Linked DNA regions of Homo sapiens. The protein of the gene in region 1 purifies or fractionates together with the protein of each later gene. This does not show direct contact. Each region holds a gene or a part of one and is shown on either strand. Other genes may lie near its edges. The genes, in order: ACKR3, ANO6, LRRC8A, TMEM177, HMGN3, ALG10B and AASS.

What was found.
Region 2: the proteins of ACKR3 (region 1) and ANO6 purify together in Homo sapiens (co-immunoprecipitation; one large-scale study listed by IntAct). This does not show direct contact.
Region 3: the proteins of ACKR3 (region 1) and LRRC8A purify together in Homo sapiens (co-immunoprecipitation; one large-scale study listed by IntAct). This does not show direct contact.
Region 4: the proteins of ACKR3 (region 1) and TMEM177 purify together in Homo sapiens (co-immunoprecipitation; one large-scale study listed by IntAct). This does not show direct contact.
Region 5: the proteins of ACKR3 (region 1) and HMGN3 purify together in Homo sapiens (co-immunoprecipitation; one large-scale study listed by IntAct). This does not show direct contact.
Region 6: the proteins of ACKR3 (region 1) and ALG10B purify together in Homo sapiens (co-immunoprecipitation; one large-scale study listed by IntAct). This does not show direct contact.
Region 7: the proteins of ACKR3 (region 1) and AASS purify together in Homo sapiens (co-immunoprecipitation; one large-scale study listed by IntAct). This does not show direct contact.

What each region holds. Positions count from the first base shown.
Region 1 is NC_000002.12:236,568,434-236,572,624, reverse strand, and holds the start of ACKR3 (atypical chemokine receptor 3), read right to left. Parts: upstream 2,801-4,191; 5' UTR 2,701-2,800; intron 1-2,700. UniProt on the Homo sapiens protein: Atypical chemokine receptor that controls chemokine levels and localization via high-affinity chemokine binding that is uncoupled from classic ligand-driven signal transduction cascades, resulting instead in chemokine sequestration, degradation, or transcytosis.
Region 2 is NC_000012.12:45,404,595-45,408,094, reverse strand, and holds part of ANO6 (anoctamin-6), read right to left. Parts: intron 1-3,500. UniProt on the Homo sapiens protein: Small-conductance calcium-activated nonselective cation (SCAN) channel which acts as a regulator of phospholipid scrambling in platelets and osteoblasts.
Region 3 is NC_000009.12:128,913,133-128,915,835, forward strand, and holds part of LRRC8A (volume-regulated anion channel subunit LRRC8A), read left to right. Parts: exon of another isoform or gene 1-2,259; intron 2,260-2,703. UniProt on the Homo sapiens protein: Essential component of the volume-regulated anion channel (VRAC, also named VSOAC channel), an anion channel required to maintain a constant cell volume in response to extracellular or intracellular osmotic changes.
Region 4 is NC_000002.12:119,677,888-119,682,000, reverse strand, and holds the start of TMEM177 (transmembrane protein 177), read right to left. Parts: upstream 2,801-4,113; 5' UTR 2,725-2,800; exon of another isoform or gene 2,384-2,724; intron 1,170-2,383; 5' UTR 1,148-1,169; coding exon 212-1,147; 3' UTR 1-211. UniProt on the Homo sapiens protein: Plays a role in the early steps of cytochrome c oxidase subunit II (MT-CO2/COX2) maturation and is required for the stabilization of COX20 and the newly synthesized MT-CO2/COX2 protein.
Region 5 is NC_000006.12:79,200,745-79,203,682, forward strand, and holds the end of HMGN3 (high mobility group nucleosome-binding domain-containing protein 3), read right to left. Parts: intron 2,887-2,938; coding exon 2,836-2,886; intron 1,646-2,835; coding exon 1,532-1,645; coding exon of another isoform or gene 1,505-1,531; exon of another isoform or gene 1,412-1,504; coding exon 1,319-1,411; coding exon of another isoform or gene 1,280-1,318; exon of another isoform or gene 983-1,279; coding exon 944-982; 3' UTR 501-943; downstream 1-500. UniProt on the Homo sapiens protein: Binds to nucleosomes, regulating chromatin structure and consequently, chromatin-dependent processes such as transcription, DNA replication and DNA repair.
Region 6 is NC_000012.12:38,326,774-38,330,221, reverse strand, and holds the end of ALG10B (dol-P-Glc:Glc(2)Man(9)GlcNAc(2)-PP-Dol alpha-1,2-glucosyltransferase), read right to left. Parts: 3' UTR 501-3,448; downstream 1-500. UniProt on the Homo sapiens protein: Dol-P-Glc:Glc(2)Man(9)GlcNAc(2)-PP-Dol alpha-1,2-glucosyltransferase that operates in the biosynthetic pathway of dolichol-linked oligosaccharides, the glycan precursors employed in protein asparagine (N)-glycosylation.
Region 7 is NC_000007.14:122,095,750-122,099,249, reverse strand, and holds part of AASS (alpha-aminoadipic semialdehyde synthase, mitochondrial), read left to right. Parts: intron 1-383; coding exon 384-505; intron 506-673; coding exon 674-800; intron 801-3,500. UniProt on the Homo sapiens protein: Bifunctional enzyme that catalyzes the first two steps in lysine degradation.

The DNA.
Region 1 (4,191 bases):
CAGTGGGAGGTCAGCCAGGCTAGGAGAGCCTCCTCACCCCCGCCCTAAGCCAGACACAATGGGGTTCCCAGGAGGACACTGTGCAAACTTAGGCTCTGCATATACAACTGAGGGAGGATGGCCACATATCTGTTATAGCAGGAAAAGCAAAAGATGCTTACTATCTGGCTGACCCAGACTTCAAAACGCAAAGTCCCCCACACTGCCCTGGGCTCGTTATCTGTCCCTTTGCCAACAGTGGTTCAAGGCCACCTGAGATAGTCTCGGCCCCCATCCACTTTTTCAGTGCCTGGAACAAAACACAGTCTGCTTCCAAAACTACCTGTGGCTCTTTAAAATTGTCACCATAAAATTATGCAATTCCCTGATCACTTTAATATTGAAGCAATAGTGTTTTGTTTTGTTTTTTTCAATTCCAAATTAGTCGATAAAAGCATCAAACATTCCCTGAAGGAAACCATCAAATATTCAAAATCAGGGCCACCGCCTGCACGCCTCCCTGTCCTGATCTGTCTATTTCTGGCTTGCTTTCTTTTATTTCAACAGAAAATACGTGTCCTGGAGCTTTGTCTTTTCCTTCCTGAACTTTAGTAACACTTGACATGACACGATCTTTAGTTTCTTCCTGAATTATGCCTACACACGTGCAATCCAATTGAAGGCGTTTTAATACTATTCTTGCTTCTAATAATAAAACTAAGTTATTTGATTGCCTGGTTTAAAGGTACAAATGCCTTCTGGCCCCAGATTCCCCTCATGTTCTACAAAATCACAAAAAAAAAATCTAAAGTTTTGCAATCTTTGAGGTCTTTTTCTTTCCCCTCGGTTACTCTTAAGGTTTATAAAGTGACTGCCCTTCAGCCTCAGGTTTGAGTGACTTCAACCAATTTCCCTCACGTCGACTTGAAAACAGGAGCTCTCGCCCTAAAATGATCACACAAAAAGCCACTGTTCCTGATTAAGCAGGGTTTTTTGTTTTGGGTTTTTTTTTTTTTTTTTTTTTTTTCATTCAGAAAGCCTATACTTGGCCTGTTCTGGGCCTGATTAGAAATCATAATACCTTCTCAACGCTTCAACGACTTGCTGTTAATACGGGGAAAACACACCCCCAAAGCCCTGCGTGTGTCGCACAGGCATGCTGCCTTGGCGATGCTTTATGGAACTTTTTTAAAACTACGTCTGCAATGTCTGCCCCTTAAAAGAGAAAAGCTGATGGGCAGCAAACTGCAGCCATTTCTCCATCTTCCTTCGCTTTCCCACCCCCATCCTGGGCAGCTTTCCCCTCCCCCCAATCTCCTGGAGGTTGTGGCATTAAGCTCTGCAGTTGTGTGCACATTCAAGTGTTTATGGCAGAGACTGGGGAAAAAAGAGCAAATTGTTTCCAAGCTAGAGCTCCCATGTGCAACTTTGCTTTAGAAAAGACTTTCCATCTGGGGAAAGCTCATATTCTGATGAAAGAAGGGCAAGCAGTTTATCCATTTAAAATCTATGGAAAGTTAAAGCACAGAAACCAGCAGCCTCCACTTTCTTTGCTAGGCGTGCCTAGCTGATGTCCACATTTTTCCTGGAATAAATAAAGGGACACTAAAAGCAGCATCTGCCTTTAAAAAAGAAAAGAACAAAGTTACCATGTTGAGACTTTGCAGACTGAAGTTTCAGGGGATGTCACTGCACCAAATACATTCAAAGGGCTGTAAACCATTTAAGGAGGCTCTCTCCCACTTTTGAAACACTAAGTAATCCTGTTGTGAGCAAAAGGAAAGAAAGAAAGAAAGAAAGAGGAAGAGAGAAAGAGAGACAGCCAGTCTGACTTTTACAACTTCTCATTCTCCCTGGAAGTTACAAGTCTTGGCTAACCACCCATCCCTGACCTCACTCCAAAGTTCTCTCAGTCACTCCTTGAATCTTTGCACATGCCAACAAAATTGAACAAAATCCACATTTTACCTGAAGAGTATATTTAAATTGCAAAATAGTAGATTTGTGTGTGTGCTTCCCCCAACCCCAATTGAAGTTGGACTTAACACCTTCTAAGAGAACAATACTCAAATTAGATTAGCAAGCGTGCCATCAAGAGAAGAGAAGACCGGGCTGTGTTTAACATTCACGTTTATAGCTTCCGGACTTACAGACTCTGGTAAATCCCCCAAAGTACTGAATTCAAATACATCTTGGACTCACAAAGATTCTCAGCAGTTTTCTGCTCCATTTAAGGATGCCTCTTAATAAAGTGTTCATCATTCTGGAATTACGTATTTACTGCCAATTTTATCTGTTTCCAAACTGATATACTAGAAGCAAAACAGGTAAACAGTGGGTGCCAAGCTAATCCCCATGCCAAATTGGTCAGGCAGAATGGATAGTCTGTGTTCTTGCAAAGTTCCCCTGCTTACTGGAGCTTAAATAGCCACACAGCAAATAAACACCAGATTCCTAAATACACATGGAAATTTCCTTCTGCAAGTGACTTAAGAAAACTGCCCTTTGCTTTCTGAAGAGAAAGGTGAAGCCCTCCGAATTAGCAAAAGCACTTTGCAATGCAGCTGCGTGCAGCCTGGGTTTTCAGAAACCAGACCCGCAGACTCAAAAGCACCCATCTGAGCGATTTTAAAGAAGGCCTTTGAAAAGACCACTTGGCTTAAGAGCAGAAGCCGTGCCTTCTTTCCGAGCAGAGCTGCTGCCCGAGCACCGTTTCCTTACCTCCGGGCTGGCTGGGCTGGCTGGGCTGGCTGGGCTCGCTCGCCTTCCTGGCTGTGCTGTGCGCTGGCTCCCTTAGTGCTGAGCACTTTGCAACAACTGTGAGCTCTGCTGGCTGCAGACTTGCATTATATACACTGCAGAAAGGAGCCTCTAGCCTCTAGATGGCAGCTTTGTAACCCACATCTCTCTCTCCCCCGTGCCACCCCCATCCCACAGGCAGACACACACACACACACACCCCCCTCTTGTAAACCTCACTAGTCTGTTGTTTCCTGCACAAGTGTACTCTTGGGAAACCCCAGCCTTCTTTCATTTGCAAAATCTGGTGAAGCCACAAAGTCCAAACCCCACGGGGGGAAAACGTCAGCCAAAGACAAACTGCAAAGAAACCCTAGTGCTTGGCAAAATCATCAAATATTTATCTGGTCTCAGGTATATCTTGAATAATCCCATTAACACCAAGAGCTCCTGTGAATGCCTCTTCGCTCTAGGGAGGACTTTGTTCCCAAGACAAATTACTCTGAACTTCTGAACTTCGATGTTGATTTACTAAGCCTGGGTTTTCCTTGTTAATTCCTCCAAAACAGAAGTAACAGTTTTGGTATGACCAATGAATCGATGCCACACCGTATATCCCCAAAGTGGAGAAAAGAGTCTTTATAATAGATTATACTTGAATACTTTTATTTGTAAAGGACTTTAAGTACAAAATCCTTGAGACTCTAATCAAGATAGTATTCTACAGTGTCTGCCCAGTGCCAGACACGCATTAGGAAGATAATAAATGCCTTTTGATAATGTCTTTTTCTGAGATGAGTCTGGCAAACACTTTACTACAATTATTGCAATCTACATTCTTATTTGGATGCGTATTGCTAAAGTTCCCCCCACGGAGGAATTCAACCTAAAAATGTGATCCAGGTGATACTCATCTCCAATGCCCCATTTACAAAAATCGTCCATAAGATAGGGACCCAAAGGCCACCCGCCAGCCCATCCCATGTGCAATGCTCTGGCTTTCGTATTGCTTTCTGATCTCCTGGAGTTCTTAAAGAGCGGCTCAAGTGGAGTGTATGAAGGCACCAGCTGTATTCACGCCTTCTCCAGAGCTAAAACTTTTCGAGATTCTTTTTATACTTCTACTAAAAATAACAGCAGACGCTCGGTCCCAGCGCTGAATCTGGGGGACTGGGAGGTCAAAGTCTCACGTGGCTAGAAAGTCTCCGTGTGGAGAAAGCCCTTAACGAAAGAAATATTTTGTTTAGCTAAAAGCTTCACATTTTTCTCCTGAACTGGCTGCCCAGCGGGAGGCGAGGTGCACACCTGCTCTCCGGGGGCCTCCGGAGGGGTCGCCCTGGGGCCGGCCTTTCCCAGCCCGAGCGCAGCGTCCCGCCACCGCCTCTGCAGGGCGGCGCAATCACTCTTCGTGTCACATCGGCACCAAGGACATCTCCAGGCTCCCCAGAGACGCTGGAAAGGAAAACTGCCAGC
Region 2 (3,500 bases), on another chromosome or scaffold:
AAACGGCTCACTCTGCTGGGTTTCCCACTGCTATTGATCTCAGGGCTCACTTTTCACTGACTGCTACTGAAGCTTTACTCAGGGGAAATTATCTCTACTACAGGAGACGTCTCTGACCTCACAATCTTTCCCCACTTCTTTCTTTTTGATGATGTTAGAGAGGCAGCAGGAGGCTGTGGAAAGTGGATGGGATATGAGTTCAGACACCCCTGAATCTGAATCCACACTCTATTTCTTAGCTGGTTAACTTTGGTAAAAAAATAAAACGGGGTGATAAAACCTACATTGCCCAGGGCTGCTGTCAGGATTAAATGATTCAAAATAGGTAACGGATGTAGCACGTTTCCTAACACATCAAAACCTGCTGAATGGGATTTTCTGTTGAGCAATACAGGCTGCACTGGCTGAGGCCAAGTGTAAATATGGCCTATATTACGTAGACTCTTGGCTCAGTTATCCAGGCCACCTGGATCAGTGGTTCCCACTTCAGCACATACAAGCATGACATGGAATGCTTGTGAGTAGTGCAGCTTCCTGTGCTCCCAACTAAAAGGTCTGAGATAAGCTCCAGAATCTGCAGTTTTGCAGTCATTCCGGGGGGGGGGGGGGGGGTGACTCAGGTAGCACCAAGGACCACACATGTCCATCACCCTTCATGACACCGAACTCTAAGGTCACTGGGTGTGGTTTCTATTTGTTTATACTTTGCTTTGCCTCCCAAACTTCTAGCCTCCGCCTCTTGCTGAATCCTTTCCATGCCCTCAGAGAAGCAGGTCTTTTTCTGTCTGGGCTCTAAATCACATCAAAGCTCAGATTCAGGATGAAACTTCTGTCCTGGCAACTACTTGTGTCAGCTGGCGCTTCCGTCTCATATCAGGTCATCTTAGAAGTCTTTCTTACTAGCTTTCATTTCTGAGTTACAGATGCTGAGCCTCTTGTTTGGTTTTCCTGAGTTGAACCACTCATGTTTGGGTTTTCTATTGGTCTGTGTTTCTAGTGCAGGGAGCTCAATCTTGACTTCACATGAGAATCACCCACAGAACTTTTAGAAAAATATACACACCAGATACGTTTTCCCTGGCCAAGGCTAGAAGCAGGGGTTACAAAATAATTTCCATAGGAATTTACCATGTGTATTGTCATAGCCACATCATAAGTTATGCTTTACTAGGTCCTTATTTTGTACAAAACATGGTGAGAAGCACTTTACATCTCACTTCCTCTTCAACTCCATTATCACATTTAATCCACATAATGGAGATGATCATCATTTCTGTTTAGGACGTTCTACAGTATTCCCACTTGCTAATTTTGAAATACAAGCATCCTTCACTATCTGAATCTATTTTATGTGTCAGTTTACTGTTTCTGAACCTAGAGAGTAAGTGTGGATAGTGAGGGACACCTATATTTAGGACTCTGATTGCCTATAGCTCATCTTCTCTCCAAATCCTATCCTGAGAAGGGACATTTTCTCCTAAAACAGTTCTTTTTTCTTATTATATAAATAAGTATACTTATTTATATAAGAAGAGGCGTTTATGTTACAATATACATGTATAAATGTATATAAAGGAAAATTATAGCTATCTACTAAATACCAAACAATTGATACTACAGACATTTTGGATCCTTAATTCTATTATCTCTGACATTTTGTTATAAAAATTTCTCCAGAGTGAGTTAACACAGGAATTATACTAGCCTTTTATTAAGAACAGAATAAAATCCCCAGGAATACCTTAAATATCAAAACACTAAGGTGGAGCTGGGAAGGCCAAAGGGCTCTGAGCTTGCTCTCCGGGTCTCACTGACAACTCTGTAATTTACTGATGTGATGTATCTGAAGCATACAAGGCACTTATTCATTCACTCAGCTGCTTCATACTGAGTCCCTGTCATATGCCAGGTACTGGGGAGGCCCCAAAAGGAACCTGGATCCCTGAGCCAGATATGCTCCTTTCCTTGTTGCAAGAATCCTAGTCAAGGGGTATGGGCCCAAAGGCGGGAGAGGAAGGAAGGAAGAGGAGGGTACATGTGTGGTGAAACATTTCTCCATGTTTCTCTTGACACACTTACACGATGTGAAAACAACTGCTGACTTATAAGGCTTTTCTCTATCTATTTTTGGGGGGTGGGTATAGTTTTGGATAGAAAGGATAACTGATATATCTTTTTTTTTTCTTCGAGATGGAGTTTCGCTCTTGTTGCCTAGGCTGGAGTGCAATGGTGCGATCTCGGCTCACTGCAACCTCCGCCTCCAGGTTCAAGCAATTCTCCTGCCTCAGCCTCCTGAGTAGCTGGGATTACAGGCATGCACCAAATGTCTGGCTAATTTTGTATTTTCAGTAGAGATGGGGTTTCTCCATGTTGGTCAGGCTGGTCTCGAACTCCCGACCTCAGGTGATCTGACCACCTTGGCCTCCCAAAGTGCTGGGATTACCAGTGTGAACCACAGCACCTGGCTGATATATCTTTGATAAATTAGGACTTTGTATAAAAAAGTTAAGAAAACTGGCACCTACACAAAGAGAAGCAGCACCAGTCACTCTCTAATTTGGCTAACACTCAGCATTCTCAGTTTTCAAACAAGAAAACATAGGGGGAGAAATTTGAAGGCAAAGTTCATATCACTGTAATTTTCAACAATGAGCTTACTTGAAGTGAAAGTATAAACCACGGATAGTATAATTCATCCTTTAAAATATTTCATGTGAACAAATTTCATTTCATATGAATTTCTCAATTCCAGTTTAGGAAATAGCTGCTAAAAACCAATGTTACCGAAACATAGTGTTAAATAATTAACCTACTTTTTTCAGAAAACCCTTTTTAATCTCAGAATGGATTAAGACTTTCCTCAATTTTATATATTTGTTTTCATCTAGAAACACAGTACTATTTATGCATGACCTACTTTTACTTATCTGGAAAAATCTGAATATGAGCTCAATGAAAGTGAGGGTTGTTTTCTCCGGAGTAGGATAAAAAAAAAAAAAGAATTTCACAGCTAAAGCCAGAATCCCTTTCTGGGTGGGGGAAGAGGAAGGAGAGAGATCTTTGTTTAGAGAAAGACCCTGACAGTTTCCATTGAAGATGGAGAATAAGACCTGTTAAAGAAATCTGGAAGGAGGCACTGAAACCCGGAGTGAGTTAACTGCTCAATAAAGAGAATGAACAGAAACTTGGTGACTGGGGAGAAAAAAGCCAGGAGTAGGAGAAGAAAGGAGAGAGAAGTTGTATGTGATGGAGGCAAGAGGGCAACATGGCAGGAGGCGAGAGCCTGTAAAGAAGGGTGATAAATTTTAAAAAATTCCCAGCTATATAGTGGGATAAAAGACTTTTTATAAAGGTAGAGGTTTTTTATTTCTAAACAAGGGAAGAGGTGGTGGGGGAGATGAGAGGAGGAGGACAGGGGGAAGAAGACAGAAGGCGGGAGAGGTGACTACAGAAGATAGTCACAAACACGAAACTTTGCTGGCTTTAAGATGGAGAAGAGG
Region 3 (2,703 bases), on another chromosome or scaffold:
AGGGCGAGGCCAGAGCGTGGGGCACATGGGGCCTGGGGAGTTGGCTGGATTAGGAACTGGTGACTTTGGCCAGAGAGTTAAGGGTGGACAGGGTCATGGAGGCAGAGTGAGGAGAGAGACAGCGGCTTTCCTGCAGTTGGTCAGGAAGGCCAGAGAGCCAAGGACAACGCTGGGGCCCTGGAAGCCTCCTGAGAGAGTTGTCCTTTTCAAAGATCAGGTCGAGTTGAGGCCTTTCAGTGCCGATGGGGACCCACTGAAGTCTCTGGGGAGGTAGGAGAGGGTGCAATTGGGGGATTGGGAACCAACTTCAAGCCTCCAGGGCACGGGCCGGCGACAATCCGACAATCCAGCAGAGAAGGATCGGTCCAGAGGATGGGTGTGGCTGTGGTGGGAGCCGAGCAACTGAGAGTACCTCCCCTTTTCTCTCTGGGGCCTGGAGAGGGCTCCCTGGCTCAGAGCAGGGCATGTTCTGGGGAGGAGGCCTTTCAGGGAGGGGGCTCCAGAGCCAGGCTCCATATGGACCCGAGCTCTGCCACTCGCTGTCCAGAGCTTTCCCACTGTCCCTGACCACTGCATGTGTCAGCAGAGGAGATCACGGGGTGGGAGTGGGGTCTTTCTGGGAAGGCTCTGGCCCCTGGGTGCTCCAGAGCCCACTTCCTGTCTACCCTCTGACCTTCAGCCCCTGCTGACCTCAAAGCCAACCCCAAATGCATTCCTGATCCTTGGTCACAGTGGTGGCAGTGTAGGATACACAGGTTAGGAGCCTTTTTGAAAGCACCCCCTGTGCCTGGGCTGGGCATGGTGGCTCACGCCTGTAATCCCAACACTTTGGGAGGCCGAGGCGGGCAGATCACCTGAGGTCAGGAGTTCAAGACCAGCCTGGCCGACATAATGAAACCCCGTCTCTGCAAACAATACAAAAATTAGCCGGGCATGGTGGTATGCGGCTGTAATCCCAGCTACTCGGGAGGCTAAGGCAGGAGAATCACTTGAACCTGGGAGGTGGAGATTACAGTGAGCCAAGATTGCGCCACTGCACTCTCTGGGTGACAGAGTGAGACTCCGTCCCCCGCCCCCGCCCCCCAAAAAAAAAGAAAAAGCACTCTGCCGGGCCTTGGCCATGCTTATCTCCCTGCTGGGAAAGCCACGTTGCTCCCCAGGAACTCCTGGGCCCTTCTCTAAACGCGGCTGGAGAGAGCAGGTGCCCGTGAGGTTGAGGTCCGAGTCTGCAAAACGGTCCTCAGCCACAGAGTGTCCAAGCTCAGTTTCTAGTCCAACCTGTGCCTTTTACAAATGGGGAAACTGAGGCCCAGAGAGGGAGGGACTTCCAGAGTTACCCTGTAACTGAGTGCCATATTTGGCAGAAGGGAAATACAGCATGGGCTCTGAGTGGGAGGAAATAAGACGTACATCCTCTCCTGACCCTTTCGGAGAGGCTGCAACCTCAGACGAGTGGCGTGTCATCTCTCTGGGCCTCAGTCTCCTTGGCAGGAAAATGGGGGCGGTGATAGAGCAAGCTCAGAAGGGCTGCTGTGCCATCTCCCCATCATCCTCACTTGGGATCAAGGCCCAGGGCTCCTGGCTCCTGCCCTCCTGCCCATCCCATCTGAAGGAGGCAGCCTCGGGACGGGCAGGCTCAACTCATGGCCTTACTTACACGCAGTAAGAACTCATGGCCCCAGCTGATTCCTCGCAGCAGGGCAGGGAAGAAGCTGGCATACGTGAGGCTCTTCCTGTGTGCCAGGAGACAGCACGAACCCACTGCAGCCCCCTGTTTGCTCCTTGCTCCGCTAACAGTGTGGACGGTTCACCAGAGCATGGGCTGTTGAACCGGGTTCAAATCCTGGCTCCATCACTTACCAGCTGAACCTCTGGACAAGTCAGCGTCTTTGGGCCTCAGTTACCCCATCTGTAAAATTGGAAGAGTATTGACAGAATATTTATAGGTAGTTTGCTGGTTAAATAAATTAATAGTATCAGTGCTCACAGTGAGCCTGCCACACATTAAGCTGCATACGGGTGTCGTCTGTTAACAGTAATTGCTCCATATCCTCAGGGAATGTGGTCCAAGGTCCCCCGTGGATGCCTGGCACTGCAGGTAGTGCAGAACCCTATATGTTCTGTTCGTTGCTATTCACAGGTACCTATGATAAAGTTTAATTTATAAATTAAGCATAGTACACTTAGGCTTTGAGGCTATTATTATTTTTTTGAGATGGAGTCTCACTCTGTCACCCAGGCTGGAGTGCAGTGGCGCGATGTCGGCTCTGCAAGCTCCGCCTCCCGGGTTCACGCCATTCTCCTGCCTCAGCCTCCCGAGTAGCTGGGACTACAGGCGCCCGGCACCATGCCCGGCTAATTTTTTTGTATTTTTAGTAGAGACGGGGTTTCACCGTGTTAGCCAGGATAGTCTCGATCTCCTGACCTCGTGATCCGCCCGCCTCAGCCTCCCAAAGTGCTGGGATTACAGGCGTGAGCCACCGCACCCGGCCTAGGGGGTGGATTTTCTCAGCATGCTGTTTTGCTTTCATAAATTGTTGTTAAGCTGGGCAGAACCAACAGCCTGGCTCCTGGTGAGCCCTGGGATGGAGGTGGGAGCAGCTGGCCAATGCGATATACTTCCCAGGGCCAGGTGCTGGAAGATAGTGGGGATCGAGGCAGGCAGGTCTCATCCTTAGAGCCCACATCAAGGGGGTAACAGAT
Region 4 (4,113 bases), about 120 Mb from region 1:
GAAACAAAGGCTCAGATTCATAGCCCCTGAATAGTCCCTCATAGTCCCTGAGTTCATAAGTAGTGGTTATAGTACAATCTAAGCTATTTAATTCCAAAGCCAGTGATTTTTCTGGCCGTGAGCTATAGGTCCAAAGGCTCCAACAGGGCCCTCCAGACTCAATGGCAGGGTGGTGTCTGCACAAGCTGGAAGTGTCCTTGTGATGAGCCCATCAGGAGCGGCCCGGATTGAGCATCCCCCTCCACATCTGCAGCACAGAGTCCCGGCGGGTGGTGTAGGGTAAATGTTTGATTCGGAACAAGTGTCTGGGGACGATGTTCCCGCTGGGTGTATACAGCTTCTCCCCGTCTTTGCCCAAGAGACTGCGCAGGGCCAGGTTGCCCGACAGAAGCTTCTCATAGAACTCCACTCCACCACAGGCATAGGCTGCAGAGAGGGAGGCCGTGCGGCGGTCCAGCCAGGACTCCACGGCATGAGTGAGAGAATCCTGGGAGAAGGCGTAGGCCACAAAGCCTGCCACTGCTGCCACCAAGCTGAAGGCAGCCCGTAAATTCATGGGGCCTGCATGGAGCCCCAGGGTGTACTTGGCACCCACGCCCAGTGCCCAGGTCCCTGCCAGGCAAGCTGGGGCCAGCAGGGCGTGCACGGCAGTGGTACTGCTTTCCAGGTACACCACTTCCCTGGCCAAGGCGAACTTCTGGGCTTCACGGGACAAGGTCAGGGAAGCTCTCAGCCGGGCGCCTGCTGGGCTCCGCCAGTCCACTGTATGCCCATGTATGACCACGGGATGGTTAGTGTTGATCACTAGGTCTCCCAAGAAACTGGCAGGGATGCCCACCACAGCCCCAGCAGGGAGTCTTGGGAAGCCTGCACTCACAGGTTGGAAGGTGAAGGTGGTGAAGGGCTTGTAGCAATGGCCTGAAGGAACACCTATGTCCTGTAGCACCTCTTGGAAGAGGCTCTGCAGCTGTGGAGGGAGCGGAGCTGGCTGGCCCTGAGGCCAGTACTGGTAGAGCCATTGGACCACGGGATCCGGGAAGAGGTGGTACGAGATTGGAACTCCAAACAGGCCTGCACAGGAACCCACCAAGAGGCCTGTCCTGTGTCTCTGCACAAATGCTGCGGTCCGCCACAGGGGACCTGCCATGAGTGTAGTCACTGCGGACAATCTGGGCCAAGAAAAAGAGAAGTCAGCCAGTTTCCCTGGGTCAGCCTGCAGACTGAACATCCTCCAGGGTCCACACCACCTTTTTAAACCAAAGTAACACAGCATAGTGGTGAAGAGTGTGGGCTCTAGAGCCAGAGTGCCTGTGTTCAAATCCCAGCTCCGTCTCTGTGCGTCAATTTCCCCATGTGCCAAACAGGTGTGTCGTAATGGCCCACCTCTAGGGTGGCGGTGATGAGCACATGAATAAACATACATAAAACATTTAGTGTCTGGCACAGCAGCAGATATTCCTTATAATAATGGCTGTAATGACTTTTATTCCCATCGCTGGGCACGGCACTCCAACTGCCTCATTCCACTCATCCCATGGTAAAGCCCTATGATTACTAATTTATAAGGAAAAACGTGTTCAATTTATTGAGTGCTTACTATATGCTAGACTCAGTTCTGAGCACTCTTACCGATTGAACCCTCACAACCCCATGACCTAATTACTACAGCTAACCCTATTTCAAAGCTGTGAAAACTTAAATGGCCAAAATCCTAAGCTAGTGAAGTGACAGTGTTATGGGCTGCACTGTGTCTCCTCCTCCTCCCCAGTTCATATATTTAAGTCCTAACCCCCAGTACCTCAGACTGTGGCTGTATTTGGAGACAGGGTCTTTAAGGAGATAATTAAGATAAAATGAGGCCATCAGTATGGATCCTAATCCAATTTGACTGGTGTACTTATAAGAAGAGATTAGGATGCAAACAGGCACAGCAGGAAGATCATGTGAGGATCCAGGGAAAAGGCTACCACCTACAAGCCAAGAAGGGAGGTCTCAGAAGACACCAACCCTGTTAACACCCTGGTCTTGAACTTCCAGCCTCCATAACTCCCAGAGGACAAATTTCTGCTGGTTGGGCCACCCAGTCTCCGGTACTTCGGCATGGCAGCTCTAGCAAGCTAACACAGGCATAGTCAGGTGTCCACAGCAAACTTTTTGTTTTAGAAAACTTGTTATGCCAAATTACAAGCATATACCAAAGTAGACAAAATAGTACATCCATCAACTTCAATCCCATCAACTCATGGCCAATCTTGTTTGATTTCTCTTTCCACCACACTTCCGTCCAACTGGTTTATTTTGAAACATCCCCGGGCATCCTATCACTTCATCCGTGAATACGTCAGTAAAAATTCACAATTATTTCACTTTGATTGAAACTTACTGTATTCCTGTCCGTGAAAAGTGCTTAATGAGCAACGAATGAGTTGCCGCAAACAAAAACGCAGGGTACCGCTTGGCCTATCTTAATCAAGAACTCCTATAAGAATCATTATCATTCGGGCTTTTTTTTTTTCCCAATGCGGAAAGTGAGGCTAAGAAAGGAAAGGTCTGGACCAAAGTCCAACGTCCCTAGGGCCATCGCGCTGCGGGGTGGGCCTAGAACACAGTACCATGCAGCCCGCCGGTGGCTGGGGGAGGAGGGGCTGCAGGAGCCCCGCAGAGGGGTCCTCGCTACGCTTCCACTCTGGGCCCCTAGGCTACTCCGCAGTCTGAACGCGTTACCGGGTCGCATCAGGCCGGAGAAGGGTCCCTCCCGCTCGTCCGTGCGCTCACCTCCGCCGCCGCTCGGAACGCCTACATGTGCGCGCGGCAGGGCGGCCGCAAAGCACGCCGGCCGGGGATCTGGGGGCGGGGACTTCGGGAGGCGGAGCTCGCCGGCCCCGGATCTTGGGATGGGGACTTCAGGGGGCGGAGCTCGCCGGCCGGAGATCTCGGGGCGAGGATTTCAGGGAGGGGAGCTCGCTCGACGGGTCTGGGGGCGGGACTCTTGGGGGTGTGGCTGGGGGGGCCTCAAGGGGATGTCCGTGGGGGGCTCCGGCCGCCGCAGAGGCTCCTTCTCTAACTGTGCACCTTGGGGTGGGTCCGCTAGCACTTCCTCCTCTGCGTTGAAATGCGTCTTTGATTAATACAAAAATTAGCTGGGCGTGGTGGCGCACGCCTGTAGTCCCCAGCTGCTGGGGAGGCTGAGGCAGGAGAATCGCTTGAACCTGGGAGGCAGAGGTTGCAGTGAGCCGAGAATACGCCACTGCACTCCAACCTGGGCGACAGAGCGAGACTCCGTCACACACACACACACACACACACACCCCGGTGTCTTTGATCATGCCACACACACACACACACACACCCCGGTGTCTTTGATCATGCCACACACACACACACACACACACATACCCTGGTGTCTTTGATCATGACACACACACACACACACACCCACCCCGGTGTCTTTGATCATCACACACACACACACACACACACACACACATCCCGGTGTCTTTGATCATGCCGTTGAACCCCCGAAGGAACGGCAGCCCCGCGTGGGTCACCAGGCGGCCTATGGCAGGGCCCCCATCAGAACCCATGCCCATCTGACTGGCCGGCCCGTGTACTTCTCCGTCTGGAAGCGCTCACCCTTGGCGGGGAGCTCTGAGCTTTATGTTTATTACCATGTTCGCTGCCCCCCAAGCTCCTCCCAGGTGCTTCACACTGTACAGTCCACAGAGCAGCGTGCCATCTGTCATTTCTCCTTTCCAGCTGCTCTGTGAGGTAGATGAGGGATCATCTAATCTGTGCACCAAATCCAGCTCTCCACCTGCTTTTGTAAATAAAGTTTTCTTGGAACACAGCCATGCCCAATCCTTTACAGAGGGTGAAAACAGACTGCCTAGGGTTAAAGCCGGGCTCCACCCCTTACTAGCTGTGTGATAAAATGAGTTGGTGTATATGTAACCTGTGCCTCACGGTTTGTGCCGCCTAGCCATTAGCTATTATTATTAAAGTCTGTTCTGTTTCTGAGCCCCCCCCCCCAATTTTGGCTGCTCAGTTGTTTGTATGTAAATAGTGCAATGTGACCTCAGCCAAAGCCAGAATGTGGGACATTCTACAGGGCAA
Region 5 (2,938 bases), on another chromosome or scaffold:
ACTGATGCAAGGCTGAAACATGCTCATGTTGGGTAAAGCACTTTCAAAGCTGTGAAGTTCTCAACTGAATGCGAAGGATTTTGTACAAATGTGACTTAGTATTTATCATTTCAAAAGTGGGAGATTTTCAAAGTTGAGCCTTAGTTTATGTTTTTTTTTTTTTTTTTTTTTTTTTTTTTTTTTTACTAGCTTTGATTTAGCAGCACTATATCCTATTTATAAGGATTTTTAAAAATTAGTGCTTTATAAAGTTTTATTATACAGTAATCATTGCTGGCCACTTCTGGTATAAAGTGAATTAGATGTAATTCTTCTACATTAGCATTCATAGATGATTTTATTAAAATAGTAACAATGTTAAAGGCCAGAAAATTAAGAAACAATCTTATTTGACTTATTGGAGATACCGCTATGGCAAGGTCTATCAAAATTCTTTATATCTTCTGCAACAATAAAATGAAACACTCCCAAAATGCAGTAAAGATACTAAGAGTCAGGTATTCTGCAGACAAGTAAACCTTTTATTTTAAACCACAAATAGTCAGCAGGTGGCCACAACTATCCATGTTTCATTAAAATCACATAAAACCTAGGTACAAAAGCACCACTGATTATTGCTCTAGAAAAACTGCATGAAAAATTCAAATATGCACAGTAAAAACACCACAGTATGCACAGGACTAAATTTTAAAGCAAGTGCATGGAATGCTGAATCAATCTTACACACAGCTTCCAATATTTAACTGATATTTATTTTACTTGAGGATGATGTAAATTTCCAAAAAGCATGACTATGAGACGATAAAATGTCCATCCTTATATATTTTCGTATGCCAACTAGTAGAGTCCTAAAAAATTAGCATTTACAAAATACTTGGTAAAAATAGCTTTTAAAAGTTGTCCCAAGAGATACATAAAATCAACCCCAATTTTTCATGACAATTCATTCTCCCTCGTTATCTACAGATTCAGTTTTCTGTGCCTGTGAAAAAGAAAGGAAAAAAAAACATATAGTTACTACTGAAACTACTATAAGCAAAGGAAATTCCACCCACCAACACACACAGTTTTGAACATTTGTTTTCTTTTTTTTTTCCAGCTTTACTGCAAAACCTATTTCAACTCTGAGTGAAGAAGACAAGGCAGGAATATATTACACAAACACTTTGTTTCATTTATTGCTTTCTGCTTTTCAAACCACCACAGAAGCCTTACCTGCAAGCTCCCACTCTTCATAATGATTAAAAAAAAAAACCACCACACTACTATCTGATTCTAGTCACTGCAAACATGCAGAATTTTCTACTGTACCCTTAACTCTCACTGTTTCAATCTGCCCCTTTACTGACAGTGTGCTGGGTGGGGTGCCTCTGGAGGTTGAGACATTAACAGTTGAGCGAGAGATGTGGATCTGCAATAACATTACAGGCAATAAAAAGAGACATTAAGAACGTGCTATCACCGGCTGAAGGATTGAGAAATTTCTTTAAAGACACTGATTCAATCAGTGGGAGGTATTTATGGAAAGTACCTCTTCAGCTTTAGTTTCACCATTTTCAGATGGTGCAGTACCTTCCTTTCCAGCTTCCTGCTTTTCCTCCTTCTTCCCTTTAGCACCTCTGCTAATCTTTGCTCCAGGTTCTTTCTAACAGAGGATCAAAGCACAGTGAAAGAGAATGTTAGACACGGTGTGATGATGGCTAAAATCAATCAGCCTCTGTCCAAACACAAGGTGAAGTACAACCGTTACCATCATGGTGGCCTTTATGGAGACACGGGAGCCTAATTTTGCTGGGTTTCAACTGAGTTACACTGCACAAATATGAGTCTCTGTGAAAATGTAGTAACAGGTTGCACAGAAAGTCCAGTGTACTTTCTCTTCTGTGGAAAACACAATGATTCCTCTCCTGGATTTGTTCAGTGGACCTCCCCTCCAGTAAGGGGAGAAGTGGTTCTGCCATGGAGAGAGCAGCTGCAGGACTTGGGGAAGGAGGAAGCAGAGCTGGGGAAGAACCCAGCCAGGGGGTGGCTCTGTGGCTGCTTTCCAATGAACCCCTCACGTGGAGACATGTGGCTTGCATGACTAGAAAGCTGGGAAGGTGCAGGGAAATGAAGCCCAGATGAAGAAAAGTTCCTAATTTTAAGACCAAACAACAAAAGTGAGTTCTGTTTCTGAAATCACCTACTCATGCCACTATACACATAAGTTTTAAACAATTCACATGGGACAATACCAAAGGGCAGAGTGCAGAAAAGCCATTTTGGGTAAGTTCCCTAAGAATTCTGTACCTCAGTTTCCTCATCTGCAAAACAGGATATTTGTATCTACTTCAACAGAGTTGATGTGAAGGTCATATGAGTAAAGCAATCAACCTTATCTGCCATACTATAAGGGCCTTATAAATGCCAATATTACCTGCTGGCATTATTATATTATTATTATTAGACCTCAGACTGGCCTGCGAAATCCAGTTAGATGAAGTCAGAAGCCCCTTCCCAAATTCCTCCCATAGTGGGGCAGTGCTGCCAGGGCCCAAACTCATCCCCGCTGTGTGCCGCATGAACCGCATGTTCACGAGGCTGCTGCCAAACCCCCTTCGGACATGAGGCTTCTCAGAGCAACATCTCTGACTTCCCGTGCCTCACTGACCAAATGGAAAACACACTCCTATTAACGCAGAAAACTGTGCTTTATGCCTTTAAGCAAGCCCGTAACAGTGGTAATGGTTTCAGTTTGGATCATTAAATACGGCCTTTCTTTGAATGATTCTGAGGTAGGGAATTATAATTTATTCATTGTTTAAAAAGCCAAAAGTGGGAAACAGCACTTCTTACCTTAGCAGATGTTTTTCTTGGTTTGGGTTCAGGTTTTGGTGGAGCAGGTTTCTGCAAAGATAATTTAAATTACACAAATACTGAAAAAAAAAAAAAACTATCA
Region 6 (3,448 bases), on another chromosome or scaffold:
ACGATGGCGGTTTTGTCGAATAGAAAAGGGGGAAATGTGGGGAAAAGATAGAGAAATCAGATTGTTGCTGTGTCTGTGTAGAAAGAAGTAGACATAGGGGACTCCATTTTGTTCTGTACTAAGAAAAATTCTTCTGCCTTGGGATGCTGTTGATCTATGACCTTACCCCCAACCCGGTGCTCTCTGAAACATGTGCTGTGTCCACTCAGGGTTAAATGGATTAAGGGCGGTGCAAGATGTGCTTTGTTAAACAGATGCTTGAAGGCAGCATGCTCCTTAAGACTCATCACCACTCCCTAATCTCAAGTACCCAAGGACACAAACACTGCGGAAGGCCCCAGGGTCCTCTGCCTAGGAAAACCAGAGACCTGTGTTCACTTGTTTATCTGCTGACCTTCCCTCCACTATTGTCCTATGACCCTGCCAAATCCCCCTCTGCGAGAAACACCCAAGAATGATCAATAAAAAAAAAAAAAAAATAGACACAACACATTATAAAATATTATCAAACATGAATTTATTTAGAAACAAAATAAAAACATGCTATTTGAACAAACTTTTTTATAAAGAATAAGTTGACTGAAAAGCAGTTTTAAATAACATCAACTCACAAATGACTTTTAGAAGCCAAATAAACATTTCTATTTTAGAGAATAGTATGTAATACATAACTTAAAAGCATATAGAACACATATTCCTACATTCTTAAAAATAAGAGATTGTGATTCCACAGAGAATTTTTCAAATATCTAAAGTATGTCCTGTTAAACCAACAATTTGCTTCCAAACAGGAGTCTCTTTTGAGAAGCTAAATATTAATTTTCAAACAACTATTTCTCCATTTGTTAACTGGAATCATTCATATTAAAACAAAGGTCTTTATGTCAATGTATGTTAATATGGCTGAAGGCTCCAGCCCTGAGTTATTTTTTTACTTCCTTAAATTCATAATTACAACATATATCAATTTGAGGTATCATGACAAAAACAGAAACAAAAGACACAATGGTAGATGAGAATCTATCTCCCTGTGGAAGAGGCAAAATTAGTGTGGACCTCATTTTTCTGACCTATAAAACTAGGAAGTATAATCACATTACTTGCGACAATTTTTCCTTCTAAAATGCCATGAATTTGAAGGTAGACTTCATGCCTTTCTCCATCATAACAATAGAGTTAAGAATATTGATTTTGGAGTCAGGCTGCCTGGTTACGAATCCCAGCTCAGACAGTTATTTTGTAATCTTGGAAAAAATACTTCACCTCTCTATACTAAGTTTCCCCATGTGTACGGTACTGATCTCATAGAGTTGTTATGAGACTAACATGGGTAAATCACTTTATAACAGTGGCTGATACAATGTTACACGAGTTTTCAAATGAGATATCATCACTCATTGTTTGTGGGAAAAGATTCTAACTATGTCATATGAATGAAGTATGCCATATGCAAAGATCATATCATATGGGAAGATATATTAGGTTAAATCGTCTAATGATTACAAAACACAAAGTGAGGTTTTTTTTGTTTGTTTTTTTTACATTTATCTTAGCTTCATACAACGCAGAAAACATTTGAATAACATTAGATAAATAGATATAAATGATTATAAATCTTTGTGGTTTAAAACAATAAAACACTATAAAAGAGTTTAATTCAGACTAATAAAAGTTTAACTACAACACTTGGAAATGTAGCACAATATCTCCACCTAGTGGACACCTTAAAAATTTTTACAGATAGTGCTCAGCCTTTTTTTATCACTGGCGGAAAACTTTTCAAATAGAAGTAATTTCACGAATATAGAGGGATAAAAAATAGAAAATAAGTTAAACACTATATTACCAGTGCTCCAAAACATCACCGCTAAAATACATTTTAGTAAGTTGTATAACTCAAATGTTTTTCTAAAACAGGGTGTAATAGAGTCAAATAGTAGTTTTGGTTTAGAAACTTAAAATATACCAAAGACAGCATGTAAGTCATCAGAAATACTTGACCATGACTTAGCAATTAATTTTTAAAAATTAGCTGTAACAAAATTTAGAATTTAAAAATTACAGAGCTTTAAAGATGTCAGATACCTTTAAAAGACATTTGAACTACTTGCTATCTAACTCTTGTGTAGTATCTTTGATAAATAGAAATCTTATCTCCAATGAATGAGAATCTTACTTTTTTTCTGGGCTTGTTTCCCTAAAAAGACTAAACAATTAGAAGTTATGCTTTTCATGATTTGCAATCTAATTGTTGACCTCTGATTTACACTTCAGGCAATACAGAATTAAGTCCAATCTTTCAAATAATTATTCTTCAAGAGAGCTTATCAAGTGATAGAATTTCCACTTATCCAAATTAAATATCCCACATAATTTTAGTCATTTATCTTACAACAAAATTATAAGGAGTTATCATGTTGTTCATGCTCTTTTGAACAGTTTGTAGCATTTTAAAAAATGACTATATCCAGTACAAAAATAACACGTCATGAATGGTTTGGAAACTGCAGAGAGCAAACATGGATTTTCACCTCTCTCTCCATATACTACTTCTTTTGATTTAAAAAAAATTGAAAAAAAACTTTTCATAGTGAGGCAGAATATGACGGTCAAAAACTCACAGGCTTGGGAGTCATACCAATCTATGTTCATTTAGTGACAGTGTGGACTTTGGGCAAATCACCTGACCTGACCGACCTTCAGTTTCTTCAGCAGTCAAAGAGAAATCAACATCTGCCTCATAGAAATATAAATGTAGCATCAAATGAGACAATATTTGTAAATCAGCTAGTATAATGCCTAAAACATTATAGGTGTTCAATGAATGATGGCAACCATCATTATTATTGTTACTTTTTCTCCTTTTTTCATCTTATATATGCCATACACACACATATATGGTTCAACTAAACTGAATTAAGTTTCACTGTGAAAAACCAATACATTTAATATTTTTCTTGTTGGAAGCTGGCACAGTGGCTCATTGTAAATCCTAGCACTTTGGGAGGCCAAGGTGGGAGGATCACTTGAGGCAGGTGTTTTGAGACCAGCCCACACAACATAGTGACACCCTGTCTCAATTCTTACAAAAAAAAAAAAGGAGAAATTATATGTATACACACACACATACATTACATATATACAAATTTGTATATATAAATACGTATATATTTGTATATATAAATATATATATATGTATTTTCTTTTCCTTGTTAGAAAAATACTGTATTGTCTTTTGGTCTGATGGTGATAGGCTGAGATAAAATTTAATTAACATTAAATTCATCAAAAATTTATCTCTTAAAAAAGCACAATATAGAGATATTATATTGTGACAGAATTTCTTACCCTAGAAATAATTTTTCAAATCTCAAATATTAAATATTAGTGTTGACTCATGGATATATGTTAAAAATATGTCCTCAATCTCTATTTTTATTATAATTTT
Region 7 (3,500 bases), on another chromosome or scaffold:
TATGATTTTGAACCACATCTTCTGGAAGGATAAAATGTGAGACCAAGTTACTCAATCACAAGTAAGCCAAGAAAATGTCCAGCATCTGCACCTCACTAGTAATACTGGGAATTCATGAAATACATCTATACGTCTGTAGATATATATCTCAGAGATGTCAGGTCTATTGTTCTTCATTGTACAAAATGTAAAATAATTAAAGAAACATGTTGTTATAGGGAACTCATTCATGTTGAAATTCTTATTTTAAGTAATGTGAAGAGAAAATGTTGCTTCATTATTTAGGTTTTAGTATGATTTGTGGAATGCAAGATTCTGTTATTTAAAAAAAAATTTTTAATTAGCCCCTTCCCTTTTTTTTTTTTTTTTTTTTTTTTAAATAGGGAACGTGCTCAGTCACTTTCAATGGGCACCAGGAGAAAGGTTTTGGTTCTTGGATCTGGCTACATATCTGAGCCTGTATTAGAATATTTATCAAGAGATGGCAATATAGAAATAACAGTAGGTAAATAAGCCCTAATTTTTGAAGAAGAAAAATGTATTTTATAGCGTGTTGACTTCTACATTTTAGAAGACTACTTTGTTTCTGAAATTTGAAAATTTATTTTTGGAGATGTTAAAATATATTTTACTCTGACATATCTAAAAATGTGACTTTTAATTACTGAAATAGGATCTGACATGAAGAATCAAATTGAACAGTTAGGCAAGAAATATAATATTAATCCTGTTAGCATGGACATTTGTAAACAAGAAGAGAAGCTGGGCTTCTTGGTGGCAAAACAGGATCTTGTCATCAGGTCAGTATCTGGCAAGAAATGAGTTTCATATTTTTGTTGTTATTTCTTTTCTCATTTTTCTTTCTCTTTCACTTCTCCTCTCTTCATACTCCTTTGGAGTAAAGTTTTTAATTGAAGTATGGGTCCAGAAGGTGCACAAATCATAAGTATATAGCTCAATGAATTTTCACAAAGTGAACACATTCTGTGATGATTATTTATGTCAGGAAACAAGAGTATCAGTAATTCCCCAGAAGCCCTCCTGGTGCCTCTTTCTATTCACTTACCCCATCCTCTAAGGGTAAACACTATCCTGGCTTCTGACATTTAGTTTCTGCCTGCTTTCAGACTTCATATAATTGGAATCATTCAATATATCCTCATTTGTGGCTTCCTTCTTCCATTCAATGTTGTGATTACAAGAGTCATTTGTGCTATTGTCTGAAATGATAATTTATTCATTCTCATTGCTGTATAGTATTTCATTATGTGAATATACCATTATTATTTATTTGACTACTATAGATATTTAGGTTGTTTCTGGATTTTGGCTATTATAAGTCACACTGCTATACACATTTCGGTATTTGTCTTTTAGTGACCATTTCACTAAAACAGTAATTATACATTTCTGTTGGGTATGTACTTAGAAGTGGGATTGCAGGTCATAAGGTATTAATGTTTTATATACTTAAGTGTCTATTTTATCCTTTGGAGTTATAAAGCTTAAATGGAATAAGTAGATTATTTAGCCTTATGACCATTTTAAGTCTCATCATAGCAACAGATCCTGAAATAGAGTATTACTAACAAAAATGCAGATCTAACATCTAGACACAGAATTACATGAGATTCACTTTATAACTAAATTTGGTTTTGATATTTGAGTACATATGTACACAAAGAAAGGAACAACAGACATCAGGGCCTGCTTAAGGGTAAAAGGTGGGAGGAGGGTGAGGATCGAAAAACTACCCATTGGGTACTATGCTTATTACCTAGATAATGAAATAATCTGTACACCATACCCCCATAACATACAATTTACCTGTATAACAAACCTGCACATGTACCCCTGAACCTAAAATAAAAGTAATAAATAAATAAATAAATAAATTTGGTTTTGAAATGTCAAAGTGATGAAAATAGTCATTCATTCCTAGAATTTTCCCAAGATGAGAAGAAGAAAGTTATCTGTTCCCTCATAGTGATTACCTAGTCACTTTCACAGATCAGATTCAAATTGTATCTTTGGAGGAAGTTCTGTGATGTTCTGCTTTAAAAAAAAAAAAGCAGGCTTGGAAAACATATAATGAAAGGTAGTTCTGTAGGCTGGCATTTTTACATTTCTCTTGATATCTTTAAATACAGGCTAACTTTATGCACTTAAAATGTTACTCAATTTATATAAATGTTATGAGCGTTAATTTTTATTTAGAAAAAATTGACTAATGACCAACTGAACCTCTCTGATATTACCATGAAAAGAAATTCTGATTCAAAATAGAATGATCTAGCCTTCTGAGTAGAACAATAATTTATTTTGCCACACAGAGGTATCTAAATATATCATTTTTAATTAAAAGTAAAATAACATGATAAAATCCATTTGGAACAGAATCTGAAATAAAATGTGACAAGATAATGGACAAAGACATCAATCTCTTAATATGTCCAAATTTTAAAATTTAGCAAACTAGTGGCCTTCAATAGGATTTAGCATTAGCAAAAACTGTTTTATATTTAATGTTTTCTCATTTGGTGTATTTTCTATGCTGAATAATGGTAATGCCATTAAACAATGTTATCCTATAACATTCCTTAAATTTTTTTTTTCTTTTTTTTGAGACAGTCTCATTTTGTCACCCAGGCTGGAATGCAGTGGCACAATCTTGGCTCACTGCAACCTTCACCTCCCAGACTCAAGTGATCCTCCCACCTCAACCACCCAAGTAGCTGGGACTACAGGCACTTGCCACTATGCCTAGCTAAAGTTTGTATTTTTAGTAGCAATGGGATATCACCATGTTGCTCAGGCTGGTCTTGAACTCCTCAAGCAATCTACTTGCCTCAGCCTCTCAAAGTGTCAGGATTACAGGCATAAGCCACCATGCCTGGCTAATTGTTTTATTTTTTAAGTTGGGGAAAGAATGTTTTGATATAACCACAGTGATAGGGACTACAAAAAAATGAGTAAAGAATATGTTTCACAAAAAATGTTTAGTAATATGTACAATTCTCATAGTTATAATTTTTCAAATTTAGTTTTTAATTTAATACAAAGTAGTAATTGATTTCAAGTTTCTTTGAAAATTCCACATGTATTTTGTGTGTATTTTTCACAAGTGACATTTTCGACCTTTTGGAGTAATTGGGTTGGAGTCAACTTAAATAATTTAAGAGTATGTCCCATTGAGTGCTTACTGTATCATATTCGAGACGAATTATGAACTCTAATCCCTTCGTCTAAAAAAGTACCACAGGCAAAGTCCTATCATTCTACTTCTCAGCCTATTATAAGGCCAAAGTTTTAAAATATTATTAGATCTTAGTAAAATTTTGATTGAGCAAGTTTAATATGGAGAATGTGATTTAAAAATTTCTGTTTAACCTTTAAGATGATGACATTGCACATTTTCTATTAATATTTGGTTCTAATAGTTTTGCGAGTATTTTGCTCAGTGGTTTCCAAAAGTCTACTAAATTTGTTAGCAGTAATTA